Regions from separate parts of the Homo sapiens genome. Here region 1 is linked to region 2. The links come from fine-mapping of genetic effects on gene expression. Tissue or cell type: whole blood. Region 2 holds a variant in brackets; the other region holds the start of a gene. All regions are shown on one strand. Distances are between the middles of the regions.

What was found. PIP is the estimated chance that this variant, and not a neighbour inherited with it, causes the effect.
Region 1: DYNC2I1 starts here. The variant in region 2 is fine-mapped to the expression of DYNC2I1 in whole blood (INTERVAL, PIP 0.92).

What each region holds. Positions count from the first base shown.
Region 1 is chr7:158,854,014-158,859,127 of GRCh38, reverse strand. DYNC2I1 (dynein 2 intermediate chain 1) reads right to left here and starts at 2,570. Exons shown (of 25, transcript NM_018051.5): 1 at 2,378-2,570. The coding sequence starts at 2,392. It overlaps LOC124901796 (a long non-coding RNA gene), which reads left to right and starts at 2,606. Exons shown (of 2, transcript XR_007060627.1): 1 at 2,606-2,747; 2 at 3,732-3,990. RefSeq lists an enhancer at 1,153-1,694 and a silencer at 2,045-2,514.
Region 2 is chr7:158,886,906-158,891,905 of GRCh38, reverse strand. DYNC2I1 (dynein 2 intermediate chain 1) reads right to left here. Exons shown (of 25, transcript NM_018051.5): 7 at 4,831-4,885; 8 at 573-641. Among named protein-coding and RNA genes, the nearest start is that of DYNC2I1, 33 kb to the right of the region's middle. The variant G/TG (reference allele first, on the strand shown) is at 1,901.

The DNA of each region.
Region 1 (5,114 bases), 33 kb after region 2:
GCACTTTGGGAAGCCAAGGCAAGAGCGTTGCTTGAGCCTGGGAGGTTTAGGCTGCAGTGAGCTGTGAGCGTGTCACTGCACTCCAACTTGGGTGAAAGAGCAAGACTCTGAAGAAAGGAAAGGAGAGGAAAGGAAAGGGGGGGAGGGGAGGAAAGGGGAGGGGAGGAAAGGGGAGGGGAGGGGAGGAAAGGAAAGGGGAGGGGGGAGGGGAGAGGGGAGGGGAGAGGAGGAGAAGGGAGGGGAAAGGGGAGGGCAGGGGAAAGGGGAGGGGAGAGGAAGGGAGGGGAAAGGGGAGGGGGGAGGGGAGAGGAAAGTGGGGGGAGGGGATACTCCACTGGAAAAAGCATGGAGATTTCAAAAAAGAGGGAGACACTTGATCCAAGAAACAGTAGGCCTAACCCAGAAGCACAATGAGAAAGAATTCCCAGATCATAGCTCTGTGCATGTCTAGAAAACAATTTGTCCTGATGAGAACATAAAGTCAGTGAGCTCTGGGAAGAATTTAAGAGAATTTCATTAAACAGGTAATATGACACTAATAAGCTAGAAGACATCATAAGGTTTAAAAATTTAAAACAGCTTATGTTCTTTTTTGCCAAAACTAAAAAAACAGGGCAAATAGGGCCATTTATGAAAGACATGGTCCAAATGATAAGCAAACTTCATTGTGGTACATTAACTGAATGTAACAAAAGATGACCCCTTTGACCCTGACACCAGAAACATTGTTCCCTGAGTAGAGTGAGCTTAGAATACAGGACTCCATTGTATCTATTGGTCCAATCTGACTATTTGGTTCTGCAATGAAAACGTATATAACCATGATGTTATAGTGTTTATTGGTTTTCATTTTTAAAATCAACCTATAAACAAATCACGGACAATGTAAGTTACAGAGTAACTTAAAGAAATGTAAAGAGAATAGCATAGAAGATGACAGGGTCAGGAAATTAGTGGGTTTAGGGAGAAATGGGGAGTGCAGGGCAGTAGCTTCTTAATCTTAACTAGGGGAAAGTTAAAAAATACTATCTAAGGTTGGCCTAGCGCGGTGGCTCACGCCTGTAATCCCAGCACTTTGGGAGGCCAAGGCGGGCGGATCACCGGAGGTCAGGAGTTCGAGACCAGCCTGACCAACATGGAGAAACCCCATCCCTACTAAAAATACAAAAATTAGCCAGGCATAGTGGCACCTGCCTGTAATCCCAGCTACTCGGGAGGCTGAGGCAGGAGAATCGCTGGAACCCAGGAGTTGGAGGTTGCGGTGAGTAGAGATCGTGCCACTGTACTCCAGCCTGGGCGACAAGGGGAATTATCTTTAAAAAAAAAAAAAAAAAAAGGCCGGGTGCAGTGGCTCACGAAGTCAGGAGATCAAGACCATCCTGGCCAACACGGTGAAACCTCATCTCTACTAAAAATACAAAAATCAGCTGGGCTTGGTGGCGGACATCTGTAATCCCACCTACTCGGGAGACTGAGGCAGGAGAATCTCTTGAACCCTGGAGTCGGAGGTTGCAGTAAGCCAAGTTCGTGCCATTGCATTCCAGCCTGGTGACAGAGTGAGACTCCATCTCAAAAAAAAAAAAAAAACAAAAACCTAAGGTTTATATAACATAAAATACAAATTAAGGAGTATTATTCAACACATAAAGGTAAGTGATGGGGAAAAAATAATAGGAGTGAAGGTAGAAGAAAATGTATGCAAATTAAATTCCTCATCTTTCAGTGGGGAATCAATAGATAAGAATAATACAGTAATATCTAACATTTATTGAGTGTTAATGAAAGCAGGCACTGGTCTATGCACTTTTACACATAATATCTCACTTAACCTTCTTAAACACCCTATAATGTTGCTATTATTATTGTGCCCATTGAATGAATTAGGAAACAAGACATGTTAAGTGAGTTTGCCAAGGTCATACAAGTAAATACAAAATCCTGAATTCAAACTCAAGCACCCAGGCTGCACTCTCTCAACCTCTTAAACTGTGACAAGTCATATTTAAACTTAAGTCAGCTAAAATTTAATAAACTTTTAAATATGTCTCCTCAGCCACCCCGGCCCCGCAGCAGGGGCCGAGGCCGCCTCCAGGCCGGGCGCGAGGAGACGGGCCGCGGCGGCGACCCCAGGCCTGAGGCTGCACAGACCGCCTCTCCCGACCGCCGGGAGCCCGGCGTCCTGCCATCCCTCGCGCCGACGGCCAGCCGCGCCTCCGTTTCCCTTCCTGCCTCGGAGGCACCGCGGCTCCTCCGGGAAGCCCCGGCCCGGCCGAGAGAACCGCTGCGCAAAGGGAGGGCGGCGGCGGCGCTGCTAGCGGCGCCCGAAGGAGTCCGCGAAGCTCGACCACCCCTCGCCCAGACCCAGCGCCGCACCGACCTTCCCGGGCTCCATCGCTTCCCGCAGGCCCGGGCGGCCGCGGTGTCCTCGGCCCCGGCCAGGCGCGGTCCACCCCGAAGAGGCCACCTGTGCCCCGCACCCTTCGGGAGGCGCGTCCCAGCGCCTAGCAACCGACAAGCAGGAGCAGCAGAGGGCCCAGAAGCACTGCCCAGCGTGCCCTGCGGCCTCTCCCAGTGCGCCTGCGCATCCCCGGCATTTTTAGCACCTGGCAGGCAGGAGCAGGGGAAGGCCGAGTGGTCGCTGCTCGGCGTGCCCGCGGCCCCTCCCAATGCGCCTGCGCTTCCCCGGCTCCTAGCAACCGCCAGGCAGGAGCAGCAGAGGACCGAGCGGTCGTTGGTCTCCCCAAGGGGTAGGTGCAGTACCCTGACTTGGGGTGCAGGGGCTCTTGACTCGCCCCAACCCGCCCCGGGTTCCCACGGGACCGGACTGACAGTCGGGGAAGATAGAAAGGGAGAGCAGATATTGAAAAGAGCTTTACGTTTGAGGCCGAGCGCGGTGGCTCACCCCTGTAATCCCAGCACTTTGGGAGGCGGAGGCGGGTGGATCATGAGGTCAGGAGATCGAGACCATCCTGGCTAACACGGTGAAACCCCGTCTCTACTAAAAATACAAAAAAAAAAAATAGCTGGGCGCAGTAGCAGGCGCCTGTAGTCCCAGCTACTCGGGAGGCTGAGGCAGAAGGATGGCGTGAACCTGGGAGACGGAGCTTGCAGTGAGCGGAGATCACGCCACTGCACTCCAACCTGGGCGACAGAGCGAGACTCTGTCTCAAAAAAAAAAAAAAAAAAAAGAAAAGAGCTTTACATTTGAATAAGGCTTTGCACTTAACAAATTATATTCCCATATGTCGTCTTTTGATAAAAACAAGCAGTAAGGTAGGCAGGAATCAACGTTGAGAGACTGTTTTTATACAACACGTAAGGGAAAATCAAAAACTCTCAGGACCTCCGAACTCCTTCAGCCAAAGGGAAAGTTAGGGCTGAAAGCCTGAAACCGCCTTTTCAAAATTATGACTGAGGCAGTAAAAGAGGTGTAACTTAACCCACAGCATCTTGCTTCTGACCTCCAAGCTGTGCTTGTTCCTTCCTGGCAGTAGGCTGAACTAACTTTGGGAGAAACTTAGTTTATATTTTATAATTTAAACACAGACGGTAACAGCCCTTTCCCAAAGCAGGCCTTCTTGCCTGGGGACTTGATTGCCTTTGTAGGACTGATGTTAGCCACAAGATTAGAAATTACGTTTTAGGAGTAGTTTCTAATATGCAGCTGGAGGCTACAATATTCTGACCCTCCCTAAACTGCTCCTAAGATCAGTGCTTGAGATATTTTGCAGAACCTGCACTTGATGGATCAGCTGGCACCACCCAGATCAATAAACTGGCTCATCAGATCTTGTGGCCCCTCACCCAGGAACTGATAAGGGCAAGAAGACCGCTTTGACTCCCTATGATTTCATCTCTGACCAATCAGCACTCCTGGCTCACTGGCTTCCCCCCACCCAAGTTATCCTTGAAAACTCTGATCCCTGAATGCTTCAATGCTCAAGGAGATGGATTTGAGTAATAATAAAACTCTAGTCTCCTGCACAGCCAGCTCTGTGTAAATTACTCTTTCTCTATTGCAATTCCCCCATCTCGATAGGCTCTGTCTAGGCAGCGGGCAAGGTGAACCCCTTGGGTGGTTGCAAGCCGAGTCGCCCAACACCCTCTTCCAAATGCACAGCTGTTGCTTTGCAGGCTGCAAGGCTCCTGCCAGCCAGGCCCCCGTGAAGGCAGGGCCGGGCACCTTGGCCCCCACCAGTCTCCCAGGTGTAAATGTTTTGCCAGCCTGGAGACCTTTCAAGATGTGTGTCCTCACTTAAACAAAGACACGCCAATTGTAACTTTAGATCTGCAACTTAAGTCTGAAACTACCTCTGCAAGAATTAGAACTGAGAAAATTATGACAGTGAAAGAGATCTAACCTGACTCCATCTTGCTTCTAACCTCCAAGCTGTCCTTGTCCATTCCTGGTCGTAGAATAGTTTAACTTTGAAAGAAAGATAACAGCCCTTTCCCAAAACAAACCCCCTTCTCTTTTTTTATTATTATTATACTTTAAGTTCTGGGGTACATGTGCAGAACGTGCAGGTTTGTTACATAGGTATACACATGCCACGGTGGTTTGCGACACCCATCAACCCGTCATCTACATTAGGTATTTCTCCTAATGCTATCCCCCAGCCCCCCCCGACAGACCCCCACGTGTGATGTTCCTCTCCCTGTGTCCATGTGTTCTCATTGTTCAACTCCCACTTATGAGTGAGAACATGCGGTGTTTGGTTTTCTGTTCTTGTGATAGTTTGCTGAGAATGATGCAAACCCTCTTCTTGCTGGGGACTAGATGGCCTTTGGAGGACTAACAAATTAGCCATGAGATTAGAAATTATGGTTTAGGAGTCATGCAGCTAAAGGCCACAAGATTCTAAACCTCCTCAATTACTCCTAGGGATAATATCACTATTGTAAAACCTAAGATTGGTGCTTGAGACATTTTTCAGTCCCTTCACTCAATGGGTCGGCTGGTGCAACCCAGATGGATAAACTGGCTCATCTGGTCTTGTGACCCCCACTTAGGAACTGACTCAGCGCAAGAAGACAGCTTGGATTCCCTGATTTCATCTCCAATCCTACCAATCAGCACTCCCCACTTCTCAACGCCCCCCCACCCACTAAAT
Region 2 (5,000 bases):
ATCAAGCTCCGCGCTACGTCCTTCAGAGGCCCCGTCCGCAATTCTTCCCTTATATGAGGATACCTGCATTTCCTTGATCTATCCAGTTTTGCATATATATTCTGAAAATTATTTATAACTTTGTGTAATTCTCAGCAACCATGGCCTGGATCGTGTCTTTTGTGATTTCTCTATTAGGTGTCTTCAAATCTCCTCACTTTCTTCAACTTACACACAGAGCAACAATGGGAAGGCTGTCTGTTCATTCACCCTAAACCTCTTCCCTCCAATTTCTTTGCAAAATCCTCTCCTCTTCCAGGAAGAAAGAGGCTCAAGTACCTGACGGTGTGCACACAACCCAGTTACATTCCTTGACCCCCACAACCCAGACAGCTTTCAACATGACCGAGGACTTCAAACAAGGGCAAGTATGAATTTCATATGAAAATCTCATCTGTCCCTTCATGCTCATGTTCTGCTGTCTGAAAGGGACAATAATTGCACTAGCAAAATGCTGACAGGAAAGCAAGCAAATGTGAGTGGGTCTGTGCTGGGACAGGATTGCAAACTATAAGAAGACGTACTCTCCTTACCACGGTTTCCTCGCCTCCCGGCCTCTGGTCCAGCTTCCACCACACAGAAGAGCCTTCCTCGTGGCCATGCTAATGGAGAGAGAACAGCCCCATCAGCCAGGACACAGGTGGGACTCCAGGGCACACGCCACGCAGCTCCCCCCCACCCCACCACTGCGGAGCCCGCCAGCCCTCAGCAAACAGGTGCACAGACTACGAAACTAACGCTCTGGGATGCAGGTCCCAGCCTGGTGGCTGACAAACTGTGTGACTTAGAGCAAGTATCTTCAACCCTCTGTGCCTCGGCTTTCCCTTCTGAAAAATCAGAATTATGGCATCTGCTTCACAGTAGCAGTGAGAGGAGTGGATAAAAGGATACACATGAAGTCCAGATCCCTGCATCTGATGAAGAAAAAGCCTTGCAAATGTCACCTTTGTCAATGACACTAGGAAGATCTATGCACTTAGAAGTCACTACCCAGGCTGGGCACAGTGGTTCACGCCTCTAATACTAGCACTCTGGGAGGCCGAGGCGGGCGGATCACCTGAGGTCAGGAGTTCAAGACCAGCCTAGCCAACATGGTGAAATCCCGTCTCTACTAAAAATAAAAAAATTAGCCAGGCATGGTGGCGGGTGCCTATAATCCCAGTTACTTGGGAGGCTGAGGCAGGAAAATCTCTTGAACTCAGGAGGCAGAGGTTGCACTCCAGCCTGTGCGACAAGAGCGAAACTCAGTCTCAAAGAAAAAAAAAAAGAAGTCACTACCCAAAACTAGGCAGTGTCTAAAACTGGTGACAGTATAAAGTATTATTCATGAAGAAAATAGAAAAAGAACTTCCCATGTGTCCAGAAAACTATTCTGGCACATAGCAGGCACTCCATAAATGCTGAAGAATTGAACCAAGATAAATTCAGTGTTGCTGCTGTAAAATCAGGATCTAATCAGAGCCAAAACAAGCTGTTAGATACATTCACAATCAACTGAAATTTTTCTAGAAAAAAACACATCATATATTTTACTCCTCTGGAAAAGAAAAAAAAAGAATGTAAAATATCCCATTGGTTACCTCACTGATAATTTTTATACTGATTACAGGTTGCACGGATACTATTTTAGATTTATTGGATTATATAAGATGTTATGAAATTAATTTCATGTTTCTTCTGTATGTTTTTAATGTGACTATAAGAAAACTTAAAATTATAGGCCAGTTGTGGTGGCTCGCACCTGTAATCCCAGTACTTTAGGAGGCTGAGGCAAGAGGATCACTTGAGCCCAGAAGTTCGAGACCAGCCTGGGCAACAGAGCAAGACCCTACCTCTATTTTTTTTTTTTTTTTTTTTTTTT[G/TG]AGAAGGAGTCTCACTCCGTGGCCCAGGTTGGAGTGCAGTGACACGATCTCGGCTCACTGCAACCTCCACCTCCCGGGTTCAAGCGATTTTCCTGCCTCAGCCTCCCAAGTAGCTTGGGATTACAGGAGGCCACCACCACACCCGGCTAATTTTTGTATTTTGAGTAGAGACGGGAGTTTCACCATGTTGGTCAGGCTGATCTCAAACTCCTGACCTCAGATGATCCCCCTGCCTCGGCCTCCCAAAGTGTTGGGGTTACAGGCCTGAGCTACCATGCCTGGCCTTTTTGTTAATTTTGTTGTTGTTGTTGTTTTTATATAGATGAGGACTTCCTATGTTGCCCAGGCTGGTCTCGAACATCTGGCCTATTTTTTTCAATAAAAATACAAAATAAAATTTAAAATTATAAATGTGGCTCACATTATAATTCTAGTTAACAATGCCAACCTGGAGCTTAGAGACAAAATTGGGAAACATGAAGAAAATAGGAAAAGAAATCTATACGTTTTCATCCAGTATTTCCACAATTCCACTTCAAGAAATGTATCCACAAAAAAAATGCGGTAGATCTATATCGTCCAAACTGGAGGGATTTCCACTATGAACTAGGAAAAACAGGAGGGGTGGCCAGACGTGGTGGCTCACACCTGTAATCCCAGCACTTTGGGAAGCCGAGACAGGTGGATCATGAGGTCAGGAGATCGAGACCACCCTGGCTAACATGGTGAATCCCTGTCTCCACTAAAAATACAAAAAATTAGCCAGGTGTGGTGACAGGCGCCTGTAGTCCCAGCTACTCAGGAGGCTGAGGCAGGAGAATGGCGTGAACCCGGGAGGCAGAGCTTGCAGTGAGCCAAGATCGCGCCACTGCGCTCCAGCCTGGGTGACAAAGCGAGACCCCATGTCAAAAAAAAAAAAAAAAAAGAAAAACAGGAGGGGTGTGTGTGTGTGTGTGTGTGTGTGTGTGTAAATGTTTAAAACTGGCTTCCAAACTCCTAAATATACATACCAATATATGATTATAAAAGATTATATGAGAAGAAATATTTGTAGGTATTTTTTTCTGTGGTAAATGTGTGGCTATAGCCAGATAATAAGCAATCCAACCACCACCACCAAAATTAAAGAAATAAAACATCCACGTCAAAACAACAGGTGCTGTATGACCTAATTTATGTAAAATTATGTTTGTGTACGGACATAGAATAAAGCAATTCATAAAAATACTGCACAAAGGCCAAGCGCAGTGGCTCACGCCTGTAATCCCAGCACTTTGGGAGGCCAAAGCAGGTGGATCACCTAAGGTCAGGAGTTCAAGATCAGCCTGGCCAACATGGTGAAACCCTGTCTCTACTAAAAATACAAAAATTAGCTGGGTGTGGTGGCGCATGCCTGTGATCCCAGCTATTCAGGAGGCTGAGGCACGAATCGCTTGAACCCAGGAGGCAGAGGTTGAGGTGAGCTGAGATCACGCCACTGCACTCCAGCCTGGGCAACAGAGTGAGACTCCATCTCAACGTATATATATATATATATGTATGTATGGCACAAAATTGTTAAATATGATTACCTCAGAATCATGGGTTTCAGATAACGATCAAAGAAGAAAAAATTATTCTCCAGAAATAATTCATAGAATCCAAAATATGCTTGCCACATTATCTGTAATAACAAAACAAAAAGGCTGGGTGCGGTGGCTCACGCCTGTAATCCCAGCACTTTGGGAGGCCGAGGTCGGCAGATCATGTGGTCAGGAGTTCCAGACCAGACTGGCCAATATGGTGAAACCCCATCTCTACTATAAATACAAAAATTAGCCGGGCATGGTGGCGCATGCCTATAGTCCCAGCTACTCAGGAGGCTGAGGCAGGAGAATCGCTTGAACCCGGGAGGCGGAGGTTGCAGTGAGCCGAGATCGTGCCACTGCACTCCAGCCTGGGCAACAGAGTGAGACCTGTCTCAAAAAAAAAAAAAAAAAAAAAAAAGGACAATGGTTTGATAATAACCCTAACTCCACAGTGTGCTATTTTAGAGTCACTAAGTAATCATTACAAAGCCTACTCTTATGATCCTAATGGAGACAGTGAAGATAATGAAGACTGTGGAGAAACGCTGATGTACTAATTGACAAGCTCAGCACAGGGTACAATTCTCCCTGTGCATAAATACATGTCACAAGGTAGCTTAACACATGGAAACAATTATGCAAGGAGAGGGATGATGATTGTGTGTTAGTAACAAGTGTCTATTAATAACATGTGCTTGGTAGAATTTGCCAGAGAAGCCATCAGAGCCTGAGCGACTTTGTGGGGAGATCTGTAACACAAACGCAATGTCTTGACTCACTATAGGTCTATTCAGGCTACTGCTTCCAGCAGTTTTAGTAACTGATAGTCTCTAGGAATTTGTCCTTTCATCTAAATTACCTAATTTGTTACCATAAAATATTGTCCTACCTGTTACTGAAAGTGGGGTGCTAAAGTTACTATTATTATTAATTGTCTCTTTCTCCCTTCAATTCTGTCAGTTTTTGCTGCTTGTGTTTTGGGACCCTCTTGTTAGGTAAATATCCATTTACAATTGTTTTATCGCCTTCTGCTGAACCAATTATTTGCTCATTCTGAATTGTCTCTCTCTAGTAACACTTTCTGTCTCAAAATCTGTTTTATCTGATACTAGTGTAGCCAATCCAGCCCTCTCATAGCTGCTGTCTGATAGATTCTCTTTGTCCACCTTTTTACTTTCAATCAATTTGCATCTTCTAACCTAAAGTGAGTCTCCAGTGTGCCTTCTGGGATCACCACTCGAATAAACCATCTGCAAATGAGCCCTGTCTCGGCCTCTGGTTTCAAGGGGAAGCCCAAAGTAAGATTATGGTTAATCTCAATGTACCATAAAATCAATGTATTCTCAGTGGAGACTGCCTTACCTTCCGTCTTGAATCTTTATCTTTTCCATGATTCCTTACTAAATTCTCAGCATGCCTGGAAAGCAAACATAATCAAAATCAAAACTTACTTTAAATGAGAGCTTTTAAAAAATAAAACATTTTCCATATCAGTGAAAGCTCTTAACAATATTTTGATATGATTAAGAACT